Regions from separate parts of the Homo sapiens genome. Here region 1 is linked to region 2. The links come from fine-mapping of genetic effects on plasma protein levels. A gene starts in region 2. The other region holds a variant in brackets. All regions are shown on one strand. Distances are between the middles of the regions. Region 1 overlaps C1RL (complement C1r subcomponent like). Region 2 holds the start of C1RL (complement C1r subcomponent like).

The links. A credible set is the group of variants that fine-mapping cannot tell apart. PIP is the chance, under the fine-mapping model, that this variant and not a neighbour inherited with it causes the effect. The UK Biobank Pharma Proteomics Project read protein levels with antibody pairs (Olink). The fine-mapping took linkage between variants from a reference panel, not from the people measured, so its PIPs are less certain.
Region 1: its variant is the best candidate, but not a certain one, in a credible set for the plasma level of the C1RL protein (UK Biobank, PIP 0.60).

What each region holds. Positions count from the first base shown.
Region 1 is chr12:7,094,318-7,102,317 of GRCh38, forward strand. It overlaps C1RL (complement C1r subcomponent like), which reads right to left. Exons shown (of 6, transcript NM_016546.4): 3 at 7,581-7,770; 4 at 5,584-5,709; 5 at 5,369-5,443; 6 at 237-2,846. The coding sequence ends at 2,074. Among named protein-coding and RNA genes, the nearest start is that of C1R, 5.9 kb to the left of the region's middle. The variant G/A (reference allele first, on the strand shown) is at 3,181.
Region 2 is chr12:7,105,024-7,121,893 of GRCh38, forward strand. It overlaps C1RL (complement C1r subcomponent like), which reads right to left and starts at 4,191. Exons shown (of 6, transcript NM_016546.4): 1 at 4,087-4,191; 2 at 3,228-3,456. The coding sequence starts at 4,157. It overlaps C1RL-AS1 (C1RL antisense RNA 1), which reads left to right and starts at 3,285. Exons shown (of 12, transcript NR_026947.1): 1 at 3,285-3,458; 2 at 3,650-3,924; 3 at 5,041-5,124; 4 at 5,275-5,549; 5 at 6,002-6,583; 6 at 6,984-7,041; 7 at 10,107-10,196; 8 at 10,363-13,654; 9 at 13,876-14,003; 10 at 14,477-14,530; 11 at 15,483-15,602; 12 at 16,689-16,828. It also overlaps a transcript of RBP5 not described here and the pseudogene RNU6-485P. RefSeq lists enhancers at 3,211-4,410, 3,243-3,412, 4,053-4,132, 8,244-8,745.

The sequences.
Region 1 (8,000 bases), 15 kb before region 2:
TGAGGATATAGTCGGTTACAGTGTTTGTTCCTTTAAGGATTTGATTCTTGGGAAAAAGATTTCTCTCTTAAAGTAGTGGTAGGTTTTCCTCTGTGGATATGTCTCTATCGCTAGCTCATCTATCTCCATCATCTCTATCTCTTACCTCCCTCTCTCTCTCATTGTCGATATCTCTATCTCTAGACAGAGACAGCGATGGAGATGTAGAGATATAGATCTAGACATACACATATAAATATAGGTATATATATATTTTTTTGCCTTGGCAGGGAGAAACTCATATCATTTTTTGCAATCATAAAAATAAGCAAAATAAAATAAAAACATTTCATGCTCATTAAACAAATTTTAGCCAATAGAGAATAGTGGAAAACCAAACAGCCAAAATCTTATCAATAAAACCACCTCTGTTTAGTATTTTGAGAGAATTATTATTATATTTTTGGCGATGGGGTTTCACTATGTTGCTTAGGCTGGACTTCAACTCCTGGGCTCAAGCGATCCTCTTGCATCAGCCTCCTGAGTGGCTGGGGGTATAAGTGTGCATCATTGCACCTGCCTTTTGGGAATATTTTTAATAATCTTTTGTACTGTATGTGGGTGTAAAAAACAGAAGTAATCACATGTATGTACAACTTTGAATCCTGCCATTTTTTAGAGATAAATTTAACCTTTGACCATATAGCAACTTGACTCTTGATGCTAACAAATTACCTCTCTTCTCTCTTTTATGGTGTTTATTTTCTATTTCCATTGAACAGTTGTATTTTATTTGTGTCTTTCACTGTAAATCACCTCCAATCTTTTTTTTTTGGGGGGGATGAAGTCTTGGTCTGTCCGCAGGCTGGAGTGCAGTGGCGTGATCTTAGCTCACTGCAACCTCCGCCTCCCAGGTTCAAGTGATTCTCCTGCCTCAGCCTCCCGAGTAGCTGGGACTACAGGCACGTGTCACCACGCCCGGCTAATTTTTGTATTTTTAGTAGAGATGGGGTTTCACCATGTTGGCCAGGATGGGCTGGATCTCCTGACCTCGTGATCCACCCACCTCGGACTCCTAAGGTGTTGGGATTACAGGCGTGAGCCACTGCGCCCGGCCCATCACCTCCAGGTTTTACTAAAAATTAAAGAGTTGGTCCTCTCAGGTGGAGCAGTTCCCCTGATGATAGGGGCACAGGTGGGGTGTCTGCAAGAACTTCAGTCCAGTGCTGGGCTCACCTGGCTTCTGCAGGAGATGGGGCCATTAGGAAAGTGTGAGCTAGAGGATACCATTTTCGCAGAAGCAGGAATTCCCAGGGAGGGAAAATGGTAAGGATGTGGGGGCTGGGAGGGAAAGCGGGTGACACAGCAGGTTAGAGGAGGGTTGAGAAGTATTGCAGCACACTGGGAAGAGCACAGTCTCTGCAGTCACACACCAGCTGTGGGACTTGGGCAAGTCCCTTTATCCCCTGAGCCTCAGTTTCCTCATTTGTCACACATAGATAATAACACATCCTTTGCAAATATGGTATGAGGATTAAGTGAAATAACAGGTGAAGCACCTGGCATATAGAGGACATAAAATAAAAAAGGAGCTGTTTCTATAATTGCATCTTGGAGCTGCAGAATAGCTTGAATATTTGAAGGTCAACTAAAGGGTCTTAGGAATGTTTCAGAAATGCAATGCAATGAAAACCCCTTCCTCCATACTCTAATAGCGGGTGAGTAGCTGACTCTTCCACAGGTGAGTATAAAAGCTGTGTCAACAGATGAAGTAGGGGAAGGCGGTTCTAAGGACATTCAAGGCGAAAGTTGTTGAGATGTACAGGCTTCCCGGGGCCTAGTGCATGAGCACAGGGAGGTAGAGGGTGAGGAGGAGCGGTCTGTGGGACTCTGCTTCCTGTCTGGGATGGGGCGGGCTTGCCGGGTGGGGGTTTCTCTTGCAGTGGCTTGGTGCAACAGTGATGTGAATAGGATTTCCCTGCCTCCCCCAACCCCCCACCCCCAACCCCTACCCCAGTGTTCAGTCCTCACTCCAGGCCCTCTGTTGCCTGGGGCCTCCACTGTGCTGGTCAGTCCCTGTTCAAGCCCCCAGGGTCAATTCTTGCCATTCATCACTCCCTTGATCCAGTCCACATAGCTGAGCACCTTGGTGTAGAAGTCATACCCTTCGCCACACCCTATGCCCCAGGACACAATGCCCGTGGCCACCCAGTGATGGGCATGATTGTCCCATACCACATAGACGCTGCCACTGTCCCCCTGGCAGACACTGTGCCTTTGCGTCTCATCCCCAACACAGAACATATTGTCAGAAAACACCTCGGGTCTCTGTCTCTTTTGGAGCCAGGCGTTGCAGGCCTCCCTGGGAGCTACAGGCAGCCTCGAGTACTTCAGCTCAGTAGTTAGCCAGCCCATCTCCATGCCAAACCCACTGACGTAGCCCAACAAGCCGCTGCGGTAGAGGGTCTCATTATCGGGCAGACAGACCGGGAGGACGTTGGGGCCCAGGGGGATGCTGTGCTGCAGCTCCAGGAGGGCGATGTCCCCGCTAAAGTTATGGGACTCATTCTGACGGTAGTCGGGGTGCACAACGACACGGTGGACAGGGTGGTTCCCCAGTTTCAGCATCTCATCTATGGCTGTGTGGCCCAAGAACACATTCACACTCTGGTTCTTCCTGAGAGAAACACTGTCCTTGGGGTAGATGGTGTGGGCAGCAGTGAGGATCCATCTGTCCCCCAGCAGGGCCCCGCCCCCACGGCCGTGGATACTGGTGAAGGCTTGCCAGGGGAAGTTGCCCAGCTTGGCTCTGGAAGAACCGAGGGTCGTCTGATTCTGGGCAATGGGGGTGACTGGCCGTCCGCAGACTGGGAGAGAGGCGGGGTAGGGGTGACAGTCAGCAGCTGCATCTAGACACACTGATTAAAGACCTGCTTCTCTGAAGTGCTGTGGTAGGGGACGCGTGAAGAGACTCTGGGATCAGGACGTTTTTTTTTTTTTTTTGATATCGAGTTTCGCTCTTGTTGCCCAGACTGGAGCGTACTTGCGCGATCTCGGCTCACTGCAACCTCCGCCTCCTGCGCTCAAGCAATTCTGCCTCAGCCTCCCGAGTAGCTGGGATTACAGGCACCGACCACTACGCCCGGCTAATTTTTGTGTATTTTTTAGTAGAGACGGGGTTTCATCATGTGGGCCAGGCTG[G/A]TCTGAAACTCCTGACCTCAGTGTTCCACCCGCCTCTGCCTCCCAAAGTGCTGGGATTACAGGCGTGAGGCACCGCGCCTGGCCGGGATCAGGACTCTTATACTGATGCAGACCCACGGTGTAGACCATGTGGGCAGACAAGGACAGGTAATCAATGCCAAGTGTACGGGGCACCCATCCTGCATGGGACTCAGGACAGTGGACTGAGGGTAGGGAGCACAGATGAGCACATGTTTGGGGCTGGTTCTGCAGGGCTCTCCTTCCTGCCTCCTCAGAGGCATTAAAGCCATTCGTTTGGACCATCCTGGGCCCCCATACTACAGGCAGAGTCTGTTTCAGTGCCTCCTGCCTCAGTTTTGTGTCACTTCCTCATTTGTAACATCTCCCACTACCACCTGCCCTCCAAACCATCCCCAAAGCACTGCGAGTGTTCAGGCTACCCTTAGAGTTTTCCGTGGATCAGATTGGGTTAAGAAGGCAATGCTTTCGGCCGGGCGCGGTGGCTCACGCCTGTAATCCCAGCACTCTGGGAGGCCGAGATGGGCGGATCACGAGGTCAGGAGATCGAGACCATCCTGGCTAACCCGGTGAAACCCCGTCTCTACTAAAAAATACAAAAAAAAATTAGCCGGCCGTGGTGGCGGGCGCCTGTAGTCCCAGCTATTCGGGAGGCTGAGGCAGGAGAATGGCTTGAACCCGGGAGGCGGAGCTTGCAGTGAACCGAGATCGCGCCACTGCACTCCAGCCTGGGCGACAGAGCGAGACTCTGTCTCAAAACAAACAAACAAACAAAACAAAAGAAGGCAATGCTTTCATTCAAAAGCGTGGATCTCAAAAATGGTGGGCTTGAACCCTCATGTATTGCCGGTGAGATGTAACTTGGTGCTGCTGCTGTTGAAGACAGTTTGGTGGTTCCTCAAAAAGTTAAACAGAATTATTATACAATCCAGCAAGTCTACTGCTAGGTATATACCCAGGAGATTTAGAAACGTACGTTGATATAAAAACTTGTACACAAATGCTCATAGCAGCATCATTCATAATAGGCAAGAAATAGAGACAACCCAAATGTCCATCAGTTGAATGAATAAACAAAATGGCGTATCCATAGAAAGGAGTATTATTTAGCCATAAAAATGAAATACTGATGGATGCTATAACAGGAATGAACCTTGAAAACATTACGCTAACTGAAAGAAGCCAGACAGAAATGGCCACACATTATATGATTCCACTGATATAAAATCCATAAAGGCAAATCCATAGAGATAGAAGATTAGTGGTTGTCAGGGGAGAGTTGGAGGTACTGGGCTGTTTTGGGGAAGGTAATGGAAATGTTCTGGAATTAGTGGTAATGGTTTCACAACATTGTGAACACACTAAACATTACTGGATTGTACTGTTTAAAGTGGTTAAGGCTGGGCGCAGTGGCCCAAGCCTGTAATCCCAGCACTTTGGGAGGCTGAGGCGGGACGATCACCTGAGGTCAGGAGTTCAAGACCAGCCTGACCAACGTGGTGAAACCCTGTCTCTACTAAAAATACAAAAAAAAAAAAAAAATAAAATAAAATAAAAAAATGAGCTGGGCATAGTGGCAGGTGCCTGTAATCCCAGCTACTCAGGAGGCTGAGGCAGGAGAATCGCTTGAACCCAGGAGATGGAGGTTGCAGTGAACCAAGATTGTGCCGTTGCACTTCAGTCTGGGCGACAAGAGAGAAACTCCATCCCAAAAAAAAAAAAAAAAAAAAAAAAAAAAAGTGAGCCACTGCGCCCAGCCATGAATTTTATCTCAATAATTTTTTTTAAAATGGTTGACTGTCTGGCACTGTGTGGCATCTAGGTAGGGAGATATTTTAGGAATAGAGAGCCTGTCGGTATATCCTTAAAATGTATGGCACAAAAAGAGGGTTTTCTGTTACTTCAGCTTGTTGGTCTCTCTTCCTCCTTTTCTAGTCCATCTCATGAACGTCCTTCATGCTTTTCCTCAGATATATCTTGACCCCTGAAGAATGAGGAACAAGCTCCCTGCCTGTTCTTTTCTGGGCCTTCTTGATTGCCCTGTTCTTCCTCACCTTCTGCTTCTTATCTTCCTTTCTATTCTAAGGCTTTCCTTTAACCCCTGTGTCCTGTAGGTCCCAGTTGCAGCTGAGGCTTGTTGGGGGAATGGTGCTAGCAGGTGGCTACTCACCAGGCATACACTGAAGAACCTCCTCCCCATCCTGTCTGTCTTTCCAGGTCCCTGGGGTTGCACAGGTGAGTGCCCCTGTGGCGTAAATGAGGAGAGGCAAAGAAATAGGCTCGGAGTTGAAGCTGTTGGTTAACGAAGCAGGTGCTCAGAGGGTGTCAGGCATTTGGGTGGGAATGAGGTGGATGGAAGCCACCCCTCGGCAGGTGGGGACTCACCTGCTGCCGCGGCCTGATAATAGGGCTCCTGGCAGTGGTTCTGGACCTTGGCAGGGTTGTCTCCAGGTGCGTTGATGGCCTCAGAGCCCCTGCTGGCCTCGCTGATGGGCTGACTATAGTTCACAGCTATAGGAAAACAGCACCTAGCACAGACTTGCCAACTGGCAACCCAGGGGCTGATTCTGGCCCATGGCTATACTTGGTTTGACTTGCACAGTGTTTTATTTTTTATTTTTAGTTTTTTTAAAACATTTGAGTTCGTTTTCACTGATCAGATTGACAACACTCAAAGAGTTTGAAGATAACTGTGACAAGCAGGGTAGGGGGGAACAGGCACTTCCATATATGTTTGATAGGTATGTAAATTAGCAAAACCGTTTTGGAGAAAATTTTAGCAATATCAAAATTTAAAATGCAAATATTTTTTAACCTACTCCATTTCTAAAAATTTAGTCTAAAGATATTCTCACACATGTGCTCAAAGATGTAAATGCAAGGATATGCACAGTAGCACCATGTGTGGCAGCAAAGTATCTATCAGGAGGGCTGATGAAATACATTATGACACATCAATCAAGGAGATTTTATGTGGTCATTAAAAATAATGAGTTCGCCAGGTGCGGTGGCTCACGGCTGTAATCCTAGCACTTTGGGAGCCTGAGGCAGGCAGATCACCTGAGGTCAGGAGTTTGAGACCAGCCTGGCCAACAAGGTGAAACCATTATTAAAAATGCAAAAATTAGCTGGGTGTGGTGGCATACCTATAATCCCAGCTACTCAGGAGGCTGAGGCAGGAGAATCGCTTGAACCCAGGAGGCAGAGGTTGCAATGAGAAGAGACTGCGCCACTGCACTCCAGCCTGGGCAATAGAGCGAGACTCTGTCTCAAAAAACAATAAATAAAATAAAAAATAAAAAATAAATGAGTTAGTGCTGTCCATATGGAATGGGATGATCTTTAAGATATATTATTCAGTAGAAAAATACCACGTTTAGAACACTTGCAATATAGACACACACAATTTATCCTCTTCCCGGGAAGAATATCCAGGAAATGGAGAACACAGTTGTTTCTGGGGAGGGCAGCCAGGAGTTAAGAGCCAGAGATCAGAGGAAGACTTACTTTTTAGCATACTTAAAAAAATGATATTTTATCATGTGCACCCTTCCTTCCTTTCCTTCCTTCCTTCCCTCCTTCCCTCCTTCCTTCCCTCCCTCCCTCCCTCCTTCTTCCCTCCCTCCCTCCCTCCTTCCTTCCTTCCCTTCTTACTTTCCCTCTCTCCCTCCCTCCCTTCTTTCTTTCCCTCTTTCTCCTTTCTCGCTTTCTTCCCTCCCTTCCCTTCCCTCTCCCTTTTCCTCCTTCCTTCCTTCCTCTCTTCCTCTCTTTCTCTCTTCTAGTTTCTCCGTGTCTCCCAGGCTGGAGTGCGGTGGCATGATTGTGGCTGACTGCAGCCTCAAACTCCCTGGCTCAAGCAATCCTCCCCCTCAGTCCCTGAGTAGCTGGTACTACAGGTGTGCACCACCATGCCTGGCTAATTTTTAATTTTTTTTGTGGAAACGGGGTCTCACTATGTTGCCCAGGCTGGTCTCCAACTACTGGCCTCAAGCAATCTTCCAGCCTTGGCCTTCCAAAGTGCTGGGATTACAGGCATGAACCACTGCCTCCAGCCAGTATTTATCTTTCAAAAACAAATCTGAGTCATCATTTGAAAATTTATAATTTTACTTAAAAATCTGGATTTTTGGCATCTCTTTAAAAATGAGATGATCTGCAAACACTGGGCCTGTAAATCTGCATGGAAACAACCGCTGGGGGCTCAGCTACGGCTGTCTCTTAATAGGGTTGCTTGCCAGCAGGGGCAGGGCTGGGATCCAGCCCAGGTGTCCCTGAGTCCCCAGCCTCAGCTGTCACTCAAGCTTCCACTTAAGGCTTGAAGATACCAGGGTCATGGCTGGGAACAGAGGCTCCCTCCCTGCACCCCCAGGAGGGACACTCACCCACGGTTTGGTAGAGGGCCAGGAAGCCCTTGTGGAGGTGGGCAGTCTTGTTCTCCGAGGAAGGCTGTGTGCGGAAGGTCAGCCGCAAACTCCTCCCTGAGGATACAAACTCCCTCTGACCAGGGGGCCTGCCCAGAGGGGAGCCTTGCTGACCACAGAACTGGCTTGGATCCGAACCGACGAATGAGATCTGAAAGCGGGAGGAGGAGTGAGGCTGCAGATAGGTGTGGGGTGAATCCGCGCTGCTGGCATCACAGGGGCACATCCTCGGTGTGACTCCTGCCCCATCTAGACGGGCCGTGCCCCTCTGGGGCTCAGAAGGCACCTCACAGAGGCTTCCTCAACTAGCTTCTGGTTCCATTATTGACGCCTGAGTTTCTTCCAGACATAACCACATACTACAATGTTTCTTTAGCCTAC
Region 2 (16,870 bases):
TCCCTCCACCAGGCCCTTTTCTCAGCTTGTTGACCAGAATGCTGGGGTCCCTGAGCTGGAATCTGCAGGAGTCCTCTCAGGGGAAACTGGCTGCCCCCAAATAAAATGCTTTTACATCCTGACAGTTGGGAGGCCCCCAGTGGCACATCTAGGTCACCTTGTCGATAACCCTATTTTCAAACCTATCATTTGACAAATTTTAGCTATCCACACAGAACTTCCAATCAGTATTTTAGTGCTCCACTCTTTTTTTTTTTTCCTTGAGACAGAGACTCACTCTGCACCCCACAGGCTGTAGTGCAGTGGCCTGATCTCGGCTTACTACAACCTCCACCTCCCAGGTTCAAGCGATTCTTATGCCTCAGCCTCCCAAGTAGCTGGGATTACAGGCGTACACCACCATGCCTGCCTAATTTTTGTATTTTTAGTAGAGACGGGGTTTCACCATGTTGGCCAGGCTGGTCTCAAACTCCTGGCCTCAGGTGATCTGCCTGCCTCGGCCTCCCAAAGTGCTGGGATTACAGATGTGAGCCACTGCGCCCGGCCTTAAATATGAATGGACAGCCAAGTATTATCAGATATCGTAGGAAAGTCTCTAACACAAAAAGCAGAGACCAAAACAGACAAACGGTAAAAAAGAACTTGGATGAAATAGACCCACTATAGAGAACAGAAGAAACATCTAAAAATAATCCCAAAGGAGGGAAAGGAGTTGATACTGCATCAATGAAACAAGAACAATACTCTATAAAAAGGCACATTTAGAAAATTAGAACGAATCCTTAGAAATGAAATAATATGTCAGTGGAAAGAAACCATTAACTAAAAGATGGGGATTTAAAGATGAGAAAATTTCCCAGGAGGCAGAACAAAAGAGATGGTAAATAGAACAAAACAGATAACAAAGCTAGAGAATCAATCTAGAACATACAACAGCTGAATTATAGGAGAAAGAGAAACTAAGGAAATGAGATATCTGGAAATTATTTAAAAAATAGCACAAGAACATTCCTAGAATTGAAGGACTAGATTAAAAGAGGCTCTAGATTAAAAGAAATCTGCACAATGAGTAAAAAACCACGTGTATCAAGAGACATCATAATGAAAGTCCAGAATACTGGTAATAAGGAAAATATTCCAAAAGTTCTAGAGAGAGAAAACAAAGGATTAGGAATGATAAGGGCATCAAACTTCTTAACAAAGTCTAGACCTAGAAGACAATATCATCAAAATTCTGGAAGAAAAAGGTTTCCAATCTAGAATGCTATACCCAGATCAACTATCCCTCCACTGTGAGGGTAGAACTGAGACATTTAGACATATATAAGATCTTCTAAAATTCACTCTAAAATACCCTTTCTAAGGAAGCCACTGGTGAAGGTGCTCCTCCAAAATGGGAGAGTAAACCAAAAAAGAGAAAGGTATGGGATTCAGGTTCAGCACAGGTAAAGGAAATCCCCAGAAAGAGGGAGAAGAGAACTCCCAGAATGTGTGACGGCTTAGAGAGCAAAGAACTCAGGCTGTGAAAATAAATCGAGAGATCTTCAGGAGGGATGTCACCAATTAAAAGGAGGACCGATAGACTGAAATTCATGCTTGAGTATTTCAGAAGAAGATTTACACTCCTGGTTAAGAGTCTGGTGAGATTAGTTACAGAGACAACTAAGCAAACTAAAAAGCAAAACAAAAACAAACACCCCCCACCAAAAAACAAAACAAAACAAAACAAAAAAACTCCATGTAACTATTGACTCCTAGGAAACCCAAAAGTTGGAGAAGAAAAGAAATATAATTATTTTATGCTATGTGCTCAGATGTGAATATTTTACAGTCATAATAATGTAAATAATGAATAAAGATTTAACTAAAAATGATAATATAGGTAAACTGGCAGAATGAGGAGGGGAAATGTGGGTGGTGAAGACTGAAGACAGATAAAGCTAGTCCTTATCTTCTATACTGTAGTTGAGCATTAATAGAAAATACGTAAAAATGAAAGACAAATAAGCATGTTATTTATACATATGAAGTTAAAGACCAGATGAAACAGCTACATGAATTGGCAAATGACTGCTCCTGAGGAGCAGCACTCAGGGGCGGGGAGGAACAGCTTGGAGACTGCTGTTATTCATAAACCTTTTTAAAAACCTTTTTTTTTTTTTGGAGACAGGGTCTCACTCTGTCACCCAGGCTGGAGTACGGTGTCATGATCAGAGCTCACTGCAGCCTCTACCTTCCAGGCTCAAGTGATCCTCTCACTTCAGCGTCCCTTGTAGCTGGGACCACAGGTGCGTGCCACCACACTTGGCTAATTTTTAAATTTTTTTGTAGAGATGGGGTCTTGCTATGTTGCCCAGGCTGGTCTCAAATTCCTGGGCTCAAGTGCTTCTTTCGCCTCAGCCTCCCAAAGTGCTGGGACTACAGACATGAGCTACTGCGCCCAGCCTTAGAAAACTTTAATTAAAAAACAAAAAGTCTTACAACTATTATGTATCCATAATAATTAAAAATTTTAAAATTAAAAAATAAAGTTCAAAAATTTATGTCATTTTGATATAAATAAAATTTAAATCAAAAGATAATGTGCTCTTTTTATTTTTATTTATTATTTACTTATTTTTGAGATGGGGTCTTGCTATGTTGCTTAGGCTGGCCTTGAACCCTGGGCTCCAGCCCTCTGATCCTCCAGCCTCAGTCTCCTGACTATACTGCTGGGACTGCAAGCTTGCATCACTCCATCAAGTACTGTTTTTAAAATGTCCTTATTCTGAATAAGGCTTTGGCGTTAGAAGTTTTGTAATAGCTCTTCCAAGGTAAGTGTGAACGGTGACTTAATCTTTTGTTATTATTTGTGTCCAGCTTCCTCACCTGATAGAGCAGGCACTCAACAAATACATGATGACATATTTTTAACAACCAATATGTGCGTCCCTGCCCCTGGCTCCATAGATTTGCAAGATTTGTGTGTCCATTCATAAGCCTTCCAAACGCAGGGCCTGCTTGCTGCCCTCTTTGCTCTGTGGGGCCCAGATGGCAGCCCCGGAGGCGCTGGTGGGAGGCTGTGTCCTGGGGTCCACCACTGCTCCCCGGTAAGCCAAGCCCGACTGCCCCTACATGGAAAATTCATCCCTCCTCCAGATGGGGGATTCAGGGCACCGCCACTTCCCACAACCCCGGGAATCTCCCTGGCCACAGTCCTGGCGGGACCCCCCCCATCCCCAGCTCACTGTGACAGAGTCCCCTGCACAGTCCTGGGACGGCTCCAGGTCGAAGTCCTGGAAGACGAGCCTCACAGCAAAGCCCTCTGGAGCCTTGATGTCCGTGCTGCTCTCTTGGCCTTTGCCATACGGCTCTGGGTACCCGGGGGATGTCAGCTGCTGGGGTAGCTCTTGGGCCAAGAGGACGGAGCCCCGGGTTGGGCAAGCCTGGAGGACTCCCCAGAGAAGCAGCCACCACCTGTGAGTTGGGGGGAGGGCAAGGTGGGGCCGCGCAGCTATGGCCGGAAGCCTGTGGGTGTGGGAGGAGCGGGGGAGCCGCGCTAGGACTCAGAGGCCTCGCGAGGCAGGGCTAGAAGCTGTGGCCTCACCCTTGAGGCCCGGGCACTTCCCGTCTCCTCCCTTGCTCCCCTTCCTCACCCCAATCCCTACAGCCTCCCGCGCAGCCTGAGCTCTAGGATTGTGGGTTTTCCATCCTCCGAAGACATCACCTTTGCTCATCTCCCAGGAGAGTCTCGTCCAAAGGAGGGGGGTGCTTTCTGCTTCAGCAGATCCCACCCCACCCTGGGATCCGAGGGAGCAATGGTGGGGCGAGTGAGGGTCTGCCGTAAATATCCCCCGACCACCCTCTGGGAAGGTGCTAGAGGCCACAGGCAAATTTCAGTCTCCCCATGGAATATCTGCTGTGCTGCTGCTGCTGCTGCTGCTGGTGTGTGTATGTGGGGGAGGTGTGTGTGTGTGTGTGTGTGTGGGGGGGGGGGGGATGTGTGTGTGGGGGGGGTAGGGTGGGGGGAGGGAGGGTTTGCGGCCACCCACCCTTTCTCTTCCCCTCCCGTCCTCTTCCCTCCTCCTCTGCCGGGGCCACACTCACATTGCGCCTGGACAGCCTTTGGAGTGAGGGCTTCTCCAGAGATATTTCCCCCACACTCTGGGTCCAGGCATCTGGAACTGGACATCTGGGACCTGCGAGAGAACTGGCCCAGGATAGGGAACAAAAGGTGAAGGCCGGTGGGGGAGGAGGAAGTTCCTGGAAATGTTAAGCAACTCCACAGTTCCCCTTCTCCAATTCTCCGGGCTGAGCGCCACCTGCCGTCTGACTCAGGAACAGCGGGCCCGCCGCAGCTTAGGGGAGAAACGTCCAAAAACCTCGCTGGCCCTCAGAGGTCAGGGTGGCAGGGCACTGACTCGACCCTTTTGTACTATTTAACATTAATTTTTGCCATGTGTGTAGGATGGCTCCTTGTGAGTTATGGCTGCTGCCTTCAATCAGCCATGTCTCTTCCTCCCCGACCTTTCCGTTCACGACATACCCGGGGAGCCTCCCTCTTGTAGAATTGAAGTTTGTGATCCTTGAACTTGAGCTTTCTCTTCCTTTCCCTCCTCCCCAAGCAGGGGTGGGGGACATGCGCTTAGGTGGTCTTTTGAATCCTATTCACAACCTCTGGAGGCTGCTTGTCCAGCATGGTCAGGGCTGGGGTCGAGCCCAGGTGTCCCTCAGTCCCTAGTCCCAGTCATCACTCAAGCCGTCACTCAAGCTTCTTTAGGCAGATACTAGAGCCCCTGCCTGCTCTCACCGCTCCCCGAGGAAGGACACTCACCCACAGCTTGGTAGGAGGCCAGAAGGCTCTTATGGAGATGGGTGGTCCCATCCTCAGAGAAGGCAGGTGTGTGGAAGGCCTTACGTTGTATGCACACACAAATGCATGTGCGCGCGCACACACACCTCTCAGAGAAGAATCTATTGCTTCCCCCATTTTGCATATAGTAATATGGAGGCAAGTTACAGACCCAAACAGGGTGTGCTCTGCATCTTTGGTTTTTCTAGGCTAGAGAGATTTAGGAGAGCCACAGTCTATGGCTACAAGGAGATGATAAGAGAGTGATGGCCAGGACAGATGCAATGTCTCAGGTACAGTCTTGAGATCAAGCCTACCTGTCTGCCACACCCCAACCCCAAACACAACTGGGGATGATCTCCCATACCCATCTTCGAGGAGTGGGCCTCTCTGACTAGGACTTCTTTCCTCCCCTGAGACCACTGAAACCTGCTCTCTCATAGAACTCTTAGGGTCACCTGGAGCACCTTGGGAGCCAGAGATGCAGCCAAAGAGTGAACAATGGTACCAATCCCAAGACCCATGTGTTAAGAAGAAACCAGCCAAGACTCAGATCAGGATTGGGGAGTCCACCCCTCGTTTCCCTTCAGAGCATTATTTCCTTGTTTGCTAAGAGGGGCAGGAACTGGAAAACTCAGGCTAGCCCATCTGAGAAGACTTTCCTGGAGATGAGCTGGAGGAGGGAGGAGTAAGGCCTTGGAAGGAAACTCCAGGACAGGTAGGGTGACCGACTGTTCTGATTTGCGTGGGACCGACGGGTTTCCCAGGACATGAGGCTTTCCGTTTTAAAATGAGGGAAGTTCTGGGCAAGCCAGGACTGGTGGTCACCCTAAATGGATAGGGGTTAAAGTGCTGGAGTGAGGCTGGGTGAGAAAGAGGACAGGGAGCCAAGAGGGTGGGGAGGCAGTGATGCACCGGCAGCCCCAGGTGACTGGGCAGTCCAGGGTCTGGATGTGGTCCCTGTTTGGGGTAATCCAGCACTCTGAAGATGAGGGCCCACCTTGGTCTCACCTAGGTGGCGTGTGCGGCTGCAGCATGAGTTAGGGTCAAGGGCAAGGGGAGGAATGGCTGGTGATGTGAGACTGGAGAAGGAGCTGATGGCTCTGTGCATAGCTGGTCACTGCAGGCCCCTGTGGGCTAGGGCTGAGCTGTGCCCCGCTGTGTTTTCAGCACCACCTCCCCTACACTGGGACCTCGTCTCTAACTGGCAGAGTGGTCAATGAAAAAAAGGGCATGCCTTGGCACATCATGGTCAAACTGCTAAAAGCCAAAGACAAGAGAAAATCTTTTCTTTTTTTTAATCCCATCCTAAAGACTAGACAGAACAATATTTTCAATGTCACTCTTTTCTCATCAAAACCAATATAGACCAGAAGACAGTGGAATATCTCTAAAATGCTGAAGGAAAAAAAAAGTCAACTCAGAATTGTTTTTCTAGTGAAAGTATTCTTCCAGAATGAAGATGAAATAAAGCTATTTTCAGATAAAAGAAAACAGAGATTCTTGTCGCCAGCAGACCTCCACTATGAGAAGCGCTAAAGAAAGTTCTTTAGGACGGGCACGATAGCTCACGCCTATAATCCCAGCATTTTGGGAGGCCAAGGTGGGAGGATTGCTTGAGCTCGGAAGATGGAGGCTGCAGTGAGCCATGACGGTGCCACTGCACTCCAGCTTGGGTGACAGAGTGAGACGCTGTCTCAAATTGGAAGAGCAGAGCTGCAGACAGGAATAAGAAGAACGGTAAATTTGAAGGTAAATATAAAATACGATTTTCTTTTTAATGTCTTTAAAATATGTAGAACTGTTCCAGGCAAAAATTATAACATTGTATTGTGAGGTTTATAACATATGTAGCTGTAACATATATGAAGACTGTAGTATAAAGCAGGGGTCCCCAACCCCTGAGCCGTGGACCAGTATTGGAGGTGAGTGGTGGTGAGCAAGCAAAGCTTCATCTGTATTTGTAGCTGCTTCCCATCACTCACATTACCATCTGAACTTCGTCTTCTGTCAGCAGCAGCAGCAGCAGCAGCATTAGATTCTCATAGGGGCACGAACCCTATTGTGAACTATGCATGGAGGGATCTAGGCTGTGTGCTCCTTATGAGAATCTAATGCCTGGTGACCTGTCACTGTCTCCTATCACCCCTAGATGGGACCGTCTAGTTGCAAGAAAACAAGCTCAGGGCTCCCACTGATTCTACATTACGGTGAGTTGTATAATTATTAATATTTCATTATATATTACAATAACAATAATAATAGAAAGAAAACATGCAATGAATGTAATGTGTTTGAACTATCCTGAAACCATCTCCCTCTGGCCCCATCCCTGGTTTGTGGAAAAACCGTTTTCCATGAAGCCAGTCCCTTGTGCCAAAAAGGGTGGGGACTGCTGGTATAGAGGACAAGGGGGTGGACTCATGGTTACAAGTTTCCTTCATTTCACATGAAGTGGTACAATAGGAACTGAGAAAACTGGAGTTTAGGATGCAGACTAATTCCCAGAGCAGCGGGTCTCCACCCTGTGGTGTGGGAAGACCCACAGGCCCTAAGATCCTTTCACGGGGTCTGTGAGGTAACAAAATGACTTTCATAAAAATACTCAGATGTTCTTTGCTTTTTTCCCTCTCATTCTGTCATGGTATATGGTGGATTTACAGAGGCTACGTGATGTGCAATGATTCATCCGTGGCAGTGAGCGGGATGCGTGCTTGTGTATCTTTGTGATTTAAAATGTTCTCAATTTTGATTTCTAGTACAGTGACTATTAATAGATATACCCTACATAAGCCAAAGCTCTCTGGAGTTCTCAATAATTTTTTAAGGGTATAAAGTTTGAGAACAGTTGCCCTAGGGTGACTACTAGTAGAAAAAAGCAAAGAAGTATAGCTGAAAGGCCGATGTAGAAATGAAAATGGATGTCTGAATTTGGGGGGACTTTTTTCTAATAGGGTAACCTATTAGAAATCATCCTGGTCTGTCTAGAAATGAGGTTTTCCTAGGACATGAGGTTTTCAACACTAAAACCAGTTAAGTTCCCCGACACGCCAGGACAGTTGGTCACCTTATTGCTAACACTTCAATCATTTACTTCAGTTCCCTTTCCCTTACCCAAGTGTCCCTAAAGAGCATAGGCCACCTCTGCTCTATGTTAAGGCCCCCAAGTGCAGGTAAGGGAGCTGGGATTCCTGGCATGCTAAGTAAAGGTAGCAAGCTACCAAATTGTAAGGATACTATGTTTACAAATATAGAAAGCACCCGTGAGAAAAATCTAAAATAACTGCTTCCTATTAGAGTATGGGGTTGTGGATGATTTAAACCATGTTTCTCTGTTTAGTAAAACTTCTTTAATATTATTTAATAACTTTGATAGTTACAAAATAAATGTATCTGAAATTATAATTGTGACCAGATGGTCCTTTCTGAGCCAGACAGGATTAGAGAATGAGGGGATGGATCCTTTAATCGGCATCTTTAATCCACATGATTAATGAAGAAGTTTTTGTCCTTGCATATAAACTTAGGCCAGGCATGGGTCTTTCCAATCTTAGCTGGGCAAACAAGGTTGGGGTGCTCCAGTGACTTTATTTTTGGTTTTATTTTTGAAAATCGTGTTGGTGCTGCCCCCTTCTGTCCTGAAAGGGGAAGGGCAGGACAACAGAAAGTGCCTTGGGGCTTCCTGGCCAGGGAGTTTCTCTGCAGCCTTCATGAGCCCCCAGCATTTAGAGAGGAGCTTGCCCTCTCCTGGAATCCAAACAGCCACAGGAGAGCCCAGGCAGAGGAGTCTGGGGCAGCACGAGCCATTTCTGTCCACAGCTTCCCTGTCTTATCTCTAGATACCTTGCCCTGGGCTGGGACACGTGGGGGCTTTTGTGCCCAGTGCCAGGTGAGGAGGGAGATACAGGAGCGAGGTGAAGAGCAGCAGGGGTGATGAGGCGGCTGAGTCAGCCAGACTGGGACCCTTTGCTTCTGTCTGGCATGGCCAGTGGAGATGTGGACAGCCCAGGGCAGAGGGGTGACCCTAATGGGTCACACTCCTCCACCCCCAAGTTATCTCAGGCTTTCATGTCAGGGCCTTGACTTCCATGCCTTATGGACACCTAGGCAGTCGCTAGCTCAACCCCAATGGAGTGTCAGCCACTAGGTTTAGCCCTTAAGCCCATCCTCCCTACTCTGCCAGTATCTAAAATCTCAATCAATCGTGCCCCTTCCCAGGTTAAAACTTTTCAATGACTGTGCCTCCTGATCCATGAGATGAAGCCCCAGCCACTTGTTTGTCTCGTCAGGTTCTTCCTTCATAATCAGGCTCTGCATGACTTTCTGGCTTCGCTCTCCACCGCTGCCGCCTCGCATGTGTGTTCCAGGCGCGGTCATGATGCTATGGCTTCACAAACATGCCTTGCGTTTGCATGTGTGACTCCCCGACCAATGCCGTGTTCTTCAGTCATCAGCATAACATGCTGCTTAAAGGAGTGGGCTTGTGTGCCACACTCACCAGGTTTAAACCCAGGCTCTACCATTTAAAAGTTTGGTGACCAAGGCCAGCTTACATAATTTCTCTGTGCCTCTTAACATCCTCATCTGAAGAACAAGGATGAGGACAACGGTACCCACACCAGAGGGTTGGTGTGAGGGTTAAATGAGTTAATAACCAGAATTGCTTAGGGCAGTGTCTGTCATTTGGCAAACAATAAATATCATTACTTGCTTAGGAAGCAGAATAGAATAGCAAAATGGTTAGATCAGTGGTACTCAACAAGGAGCAGTTTTGCTCCCCAGGGGATATTTGATGATATCTAGAGATTTCTTTTTTCCATTACTGGCATTTAGTGGATACAGGCCAGTGATGCTGGTAAGCATCCTAGTGCACAAGGCAGCAGGTCCCACAACAAAATGTTACCTGGTCCTGAACGTCAATAGGGGCGAGGTGGAGAAACTGAGGGTTGGGTGGTCAGGCTCCAATCTGTTTGGGTTCAAATCCCATCTCTGTCTTTTATTTCATGTATAACCTTTGGCAAATTACTTAAAATTCTCTGTTCCTTAGTTTTCTTATCTGTAGAATGGGGACAATAACCTGTGCTTGGGTTCCTGAGAAGAGTCAGCGTTCGGCATGTAGTACTCATGCCCTGGATGCCGGCCATTTTTACTCACCTCTCTCCCCGTGTCCTCTCCTCTGGGAAGCCCTCTTTGACTCAGAGAAAATGACTTTCCCTGTGCTCATGGACTCTTGATGCATGATAACCTCCTGCCCGTGTGTCTGTCTTTCCCACAGGGCTGTGGGTTCCTTGAGGGAGGAATTTTGTCCTGCAGGCTGTGGCAGCCCTAGGACTCAGCACATCTAGGTGTCCACCTGCGTCTGTGGGTGAGTTCTTGGGATGGGGCAGAGTGGGGAGTATGCACCAGGTTTTGGAGTTTTCAAGGTGTGCAGGGAGGAAGAGAAGCAGGTGGTAGACAGGTGCATCTGGGAGATGGGGTTGGGTAGAGTTTGAGGGTCTGAACACGGCCCTGCCCCATTTACTATTCTCTAGTGAGAAGCCTGATCATTGCCACGTGACCGCCTCCTCACTGTTGGTACCTGGTTGTAGAGAGCAGCTCTGTGAGTAGAAGGAGAAGGATCCTGCCCTGGAGAGGGCCTGGCTGGTCCTCACCTGGGGCCTATCATTTAGTAACAGGGCTTCTGGAAGTGGTAGCAGATCTGGGCCTGGTGGGCATTCTGCTTCTCCTGGGTGGCAGCAGAAGTCCCTAGGTGGCAGGCTGGGGACTGCCCAAAGGTTCTGACTCAGGAAGAGCACAGTGGAACAGAAAGCCCTTGTACCACCTTCGCTGCTGTATTCGTCCATTCTCACACTGCTGTACAGAACTACCTGAGACTGGGGAATTCATGAAGAGAAGAAGTTTAATTGACTCACAGTTCTGCGGGCTTAACAGGAAGCATGACTGGGAGGCCTCAGGAAGCTTATAATCATGGCAGAAGGCGAAGGGGAAGCAAGGACCTTCTTCACATGGCAGCAGGAGAAAGAGAAGAAGGGAGAAGTCTACACACTTTTAAACAACCAGATCTCATGAGAATTCCATCGGGAGACAGCACTAGGGGGATGGCACTAAACCATTAGAAACTGCCCCCATGATCCAATCACCTCTCACCAGGCCCCTCCTCCAACACGTGGGGATTACAATTCCACATGAGATTTGGTTGGGGACATAGAGCCAAATCCTATCAGCTGGTATCCTCCTTTTTCCAGGCTTTAGATATGGCACAACCTGATGGCTTCTGCATAAAGCCTCCTCTCATCTGCATCTCTCCACCTCACTCACCCTCTTTTCAGCAAAGAACCCTCTGGCTCTAGTTTCACTGTGGTGGTCCTGGGAGAGGTAGAGAAGACCCAGAGGCTCCTTACCCTGGGAGGTCAAACTGACCATCCAGGTTTGGCTCTTCCCTGCTGGTGTGTCTAGAACACCATCTTCCCCTTATTGCTGTGGACTTCAGGGCTCTGCTGCTCTGTCCTCCACAGAACTTGTCAATCAGCTTCCTACCAGCTAAGATCTGGTGCTGTCTGATATATCCTCCCTGCGGCTTGTCACTCATGCTGTCTAATGGCGTGAGGTGCATTGAGTTGTATTCTGATGTCTTTGTCCTTTTGAAGCCACAGAGTAAGGTCACACAACTTTGAAACGAGCAGGGTACCATCTGAAGATGCTGGACATTCCTTTTAACAATTACCTAGGGGAGAGGCAGTCCTCAGACAGGACTCAGGTGGGTGGGCCTCAAAGAGGAAGGGAAAGGGGGCAGCTGCCTGCCTCTGAACTTCACTCTCTAGACTCGTGGAAGGGTCTAGCTTAGAGCTAGGATGGGAGGGCTGTGAGCACTGAGGATGGAGTCATGCCTTTTTGTGACTGGACACATTTTTACTGCCCGAAGTCATCTACTGCCCCCACCCCCCAACCCCATTCTTCTGCCCACTTAGCGAATATTGAGGTTATGGTCAGGATGGGGTCATTTGCAATGAAATTCAAGGTTGAGACTATGTTGCAGTTATCTGTCTGCTTGTAAAAAGTCACCCCCACATTTTGTTTAAAACAGCAAGTATGTACTATTTCACACAGTTTCTGTGGGTCAGGAATCCAGAAGCGGCTGAGATGGGTAGTTTAGGATCAGGGTCTCTCACAAGGCTTTGGTCCAGGTGCAGGCTGCAGTCCTCCAGAGGCGGGACTGGGGCTGGAGGTCTGCTTCCAGACGGTCACTCACATGGATGTGGGCAGGCGGCCTCAGTTCCCTGCCACATGGCCCTCCTCATAGGACGCTTGAGTGTCCTCGCGGCATAGCAGCTGGCTTTCCCCAGAGTGACCCAAGGTGGAAAGAACAAGGCAGAGGTGACAGTGTCTTTTATAAGCCAGCCTTGGAAGTGACGTAGCATCATTTCTGCCTTATTCCATTGGTCACACAGACAACCCGATGTGGAAGGAGACATCACAAGGACAGGAATACTGGGAAGCAGGTATTGTTGGTGGCTGTCTCGGACGCTGGTTCTCATAGAAGTAGATGTATTATTTTAGTACAATAAGTGCAGACGATCAGCTAGCAGGATGTTATTTTTGCTGGGTATGGTTGTATTTCAGGTGCATTTACCCAAATCCAGAGTACCTTTGGGGGCTCTGACCCTCTCCTCCTCCACCTTGAGATCTGTAGAGGCCTCTCGTTCATCCCACCAAGAGCAGGACTGGACAGATGAAAGCATGGCTTACAGGAGGCCAACACAATAGGAGGTAGGGCTTTGGGAAGACAGCATAGGTTTCAAAAGAACCAAGAAGCTGTTGAAAAGGAGAGCAGATGGGCAGGGAAGACAAGTCCCAGATAGAATGCCCTTTGCAACCTAGGGGGAGCTGACCACAGTGTGCATCCTGACACTCGAAGACAAGGTCTCCATCAGCAGATTGCCCAACAGAACAAGTTCAGAGCCCAGAGATCCCAGTTCCAGATCTCAGATCTCCCACACCCTGTGGGCTCTGTGTGGACTTTCGTCCTGAAACAAAGTCCTTTAGTAAAGGACTCTTTAAATTCACTCCATCTGTGCTTTGCTTGCCAATAGCAGGGTGCGTCTGTTACATACTGGACTATCCCTTCCTTCAATATGTTCATGGCTGAGGCTGCATTTGTGCCTCAGATAATCAAGGTGAGTATAACTCTCTGTTCTGTTTCCCTTTTGTTTCCTCCAAGACTTTAATAAACCCTCATTCAAGAGGCCCACCTTGTCCCACCTGTGCTTCTCAGAAAAGAAGGAGTGGTGGGGAGACAGGCTGGGGTGGGGGCTTTGCCACCTGGCTGCCCCTTCACCTGTGGGTTCTTGCTCCAATGAGGACCCAGCAGGATAAGCTTTAGTTTCATTAAGGGTGACAATAGTTTCCTTACAGCTGGGTCAAGGATATGAGCGAGCCTCTTCCGAAAACAGCCGGGAAGGGAGAGGAATCCAAGAGGAGGAGCAGGTGGGAAAGACAAGACAGAAGGTGGATCGGGACCAGGCCTGGGAGGGAGCACAGGCACACAGAAGTGAAAGAATTCGCCTGAGGTTACACGACTCCTCGAGCGGTGCCTTTAGCTCTGCATTGTGCCACCTGCCTGGGTCAAGGAAGATGCCACCGCTGTTGTTCTGTGTACAGAGAGGGAAAGGAAGATGCTGGCTCTCAGCAGTTCTATAGAACAGAGGATGGAGAGGCCACACGACAATAGGCACACGCACCGTACATTGAAGAAGTGCATGCAAGACAGAATCGTGTGGGATATGCACACTTGCGTGGAAGAAAAACTGTTCCATTCACATTGAGGTAGACCCTCCATCTATGACTCATCTGTAGGGCAGGGGTGTGGGCACATACTGAGGCATGAATGGAGGGGAAGCTGGAGCTCTGCTGGTGTAGAAAGGCGATGGGATATGCTCGCTTCAGCAGCACATATACTCAAATTGGAAGGATACAGAAGAGATTAGCATGGCCCCTGTGCAAGGATGATATGCAAATTCATGAAGTGTTTTTAAAAATCATTTTAGAAGAAGAAGAAGAAGAGGAGGAGGAGGAGGAGGAAGAAGAAAGATGGTGAGATATCCTGCAGGAGACCAGGGCCAGGAGGGTGGAGGCCTCTCAAGAAGAGGGAAGCATGAGGAAGCTCCAGGGCAGGGTGAGGGCGCTGGTTCCTGTATTCAGCTGTCATAGGGAGGAGGGGAGTAGCTGGGAGGGTTAAGGGAGAGTGGCAGTACCTGCAGCTGGTGGCTGGGGAGTCCAGGTCTGGGATGTGGCCTCTGCTGCTGGTGCCCGGCACCTTGAATGAGATAGCAGTACGTACTGTGGGGGATGGGGGGGGGTCCCAAGGGCTGGGGGGTAGGGGTGGATGGAGCTGATGACTGTGCAGCCATCACTGCAGTGGCACTGGGCTGGGCAGCTGTCCCTGCGTCATCCCTTTTCTCCTGCATTGAAGCCTTCTCTCCATGGGTGGGAAGGCTAGAGTGGCTATTGCAGCAGGGGCTCTGGAGGGCAATGCTGTCCCGGGGAGCCCAGGCACCCTTCTCTGGGGATGGGGGGTGGGGTGCAATGAGAGACTCTGGATATGGATCCCTTAGGGAGGCAACTCCCCTTCATCCTTGTCACCCCCAGATGGTTTACCTGCCTGGACAGCAAGATGATGGCTACACTAGCCCCCATTCTCTGGTATGTGTCACTTACACTTCGGTGTAAATATGTCACTGTGTAACCTCAAGGGTAGTGGCACTTGATGCCTTGTCCTTAACTGAAGAACACAAGGCTTTGCTTCTAGTTAAGAGAATTTCAATCATCAGGTGAAGAGGCAGGGAATAGTGCAAGTAATGATAGCCAGCATCTGTCAGGGCGCACTCCACTCCAGGTCCTCTGCTGAGTGTGCATGCAATCTTCACAAAATTCCCAGCAGGAAGGAAATACTCTTGGTGTTGCCTTGTGGGCTGGCCAATGTGGCTCATCTGCTGAAGGCTGGCGATTTGTATATACTCCTGCAGCTAGTAATAGGTGGCATTTCATGCCTGGCCACTATGCAGCACTGCCTCCCAATTTTGGGTGGCATTTTAGGTTCCTCTAGAGCCTCTGAGGCAAGTGATTTGTCCATGAACCCAATGGCCTGGCTATGCTGGTGACCTTCTGCTTGGGCACTGCCCACGGGGAACAGAACAGAGGCTCTGAGAGCTGCCTCCTCTCCCTGGTGGCCAGAGTAAAGTGAGGGCAGAGGGAAGGGAGCTTGGGAAAGGGTGGGGTAGGGGGAGGCAGGAGGCTCACCCCCAGCTAGATGGTGGGTCAAGAAGCCCTTGAGAAAGATGGAGATCCTTCTTGTTTTTGCTGGAAAGGTGAGTGTGGAAGGTCAGCTACGTTTTATACCCCCGGTACCTAAGTGGCCTCTAGTAGGGGTGCATATTCAGCATGGAGCACAGGTTCCCACAGAGCAATGCCGTCCTGTTGGCTGAGGTCTGGGGAGAGGGGGCAGGCCTGGAGAGTGCCGATTCTGGCCCCTGGGCAGGCAGGGTTCTCTGGGTACTCCTTGCACCCTGGCCTCAGAGGCCTTGGCTACCACTGTTGTTTCTTTCTTTCTGTCCTCCATGCAAACTCAGGTCAGTTATATCACAGTCCTTCACAGGGCGCCTGGATTTGCCCACCAGATCTCCTCACCTCTTGCCCTTCACCTCCTGCTGTACCTACAAGGTCTCCCCGATTCTCATCTGCCCATAATCATGGACACAGCCCCAGGATGTGCAGGGTGAGTCCCCAGGGACCCTGAAAGCATGGGTACTCTTATGACTGAGGGCGTTACACCAGGGAGAGGGAGCCGGGGAGACTTCCCAGAGAGCTGGTTGGGGGTTATGAAAGTGGCCTCACGGCTGATGCGGTGGCTAACACCTGTAATCCCAGCACTTTGGGAGGCTGAGGCGGGCAGATTGCTTGAGGTCAGGAGTTCGAGATCAGCCTGGCCAACATGGTGAAACCCAGTCTTTACTAAAAATACAAAAAAATTACGTGGGCCTGGTGGCACGTGCCTGTAGTGCCGGCTACTCAGGAGGCTGAGGCACAAGAATCACTTGAACCTGGGAGGCGGAGGCTGCAGTGAGCCGAGATTGCACCACTGCACTCCAGCCTGGGCGGCAGAGCAAGATTCTGTCTCAAAAAAAAAAAAAAAGAAAAAGAAAAAAGAAAAAGTGGTCCCAGGCCAGGTGGGAGCAGCAGGCTCTAGGGGAGGAAGTGCATCCTGTGGAAGAGCAGGGAGCCGCTGGAGGGGTGGGGAGGGAAGGGGCAGCTCCCACCCTCATCTCCATCGTCCGCATGCTGGGGATACCAGGCCTCTTACTTGGGGTACTTAAGGCTAGACCAGATGGGGTTCCTGCATCTTAGGGAGTGACATTAGGGTGGGGGAAAGGTACCAAAATGGCCATGCCTCTGCTGTCTCTTGGGATCTTGAGATCTGTGGTGGCCTCTAGGAGTTCTCTGCTGCCAATAAGTGGTCCAACCATGTTACAGGATTGGACCCGGGATGGCCTTTGTGCTTTAGAGCTGAGGCACTTCCTGCTTCTACCTGAGCTCCTTTTCAACATATAGGCCTGGGCACGTAGGCGTCAGGGTCATGTGGGAGGTGGAGGCCGAGGGGAGAGGTGGGCAGTGGGGAGGGGTACACGGCTAGACCTTGTTGCTCTGCCTCCTCTTGGGACCCCCCAGTGGGATGGAGCCCAAGTCCTTGGGCAGCACATGGTCCTCTGCTTCACAGGACACACACCTGTACCCATCCTCCCCATCCACTTTTGCTCAGTTTATTTTGGGGACAGGGCTCTGAATTGACCTTTGGTCTTTGCAGACTCTCAGGGACCATCTGGAGTTCCAGCTGGAATCTGGGCCTGGTGGAGTGGGAGTGGGGCAGGGGCCTGCATTGGGCTGACTTAGAGAGCACAGTTATTCCATCCATATGGAAATAAACATTTTGGATTCCTGATCACATCCCTGGAGTTTAAGACTCTGGCCAACCAAGTCAACTCCACA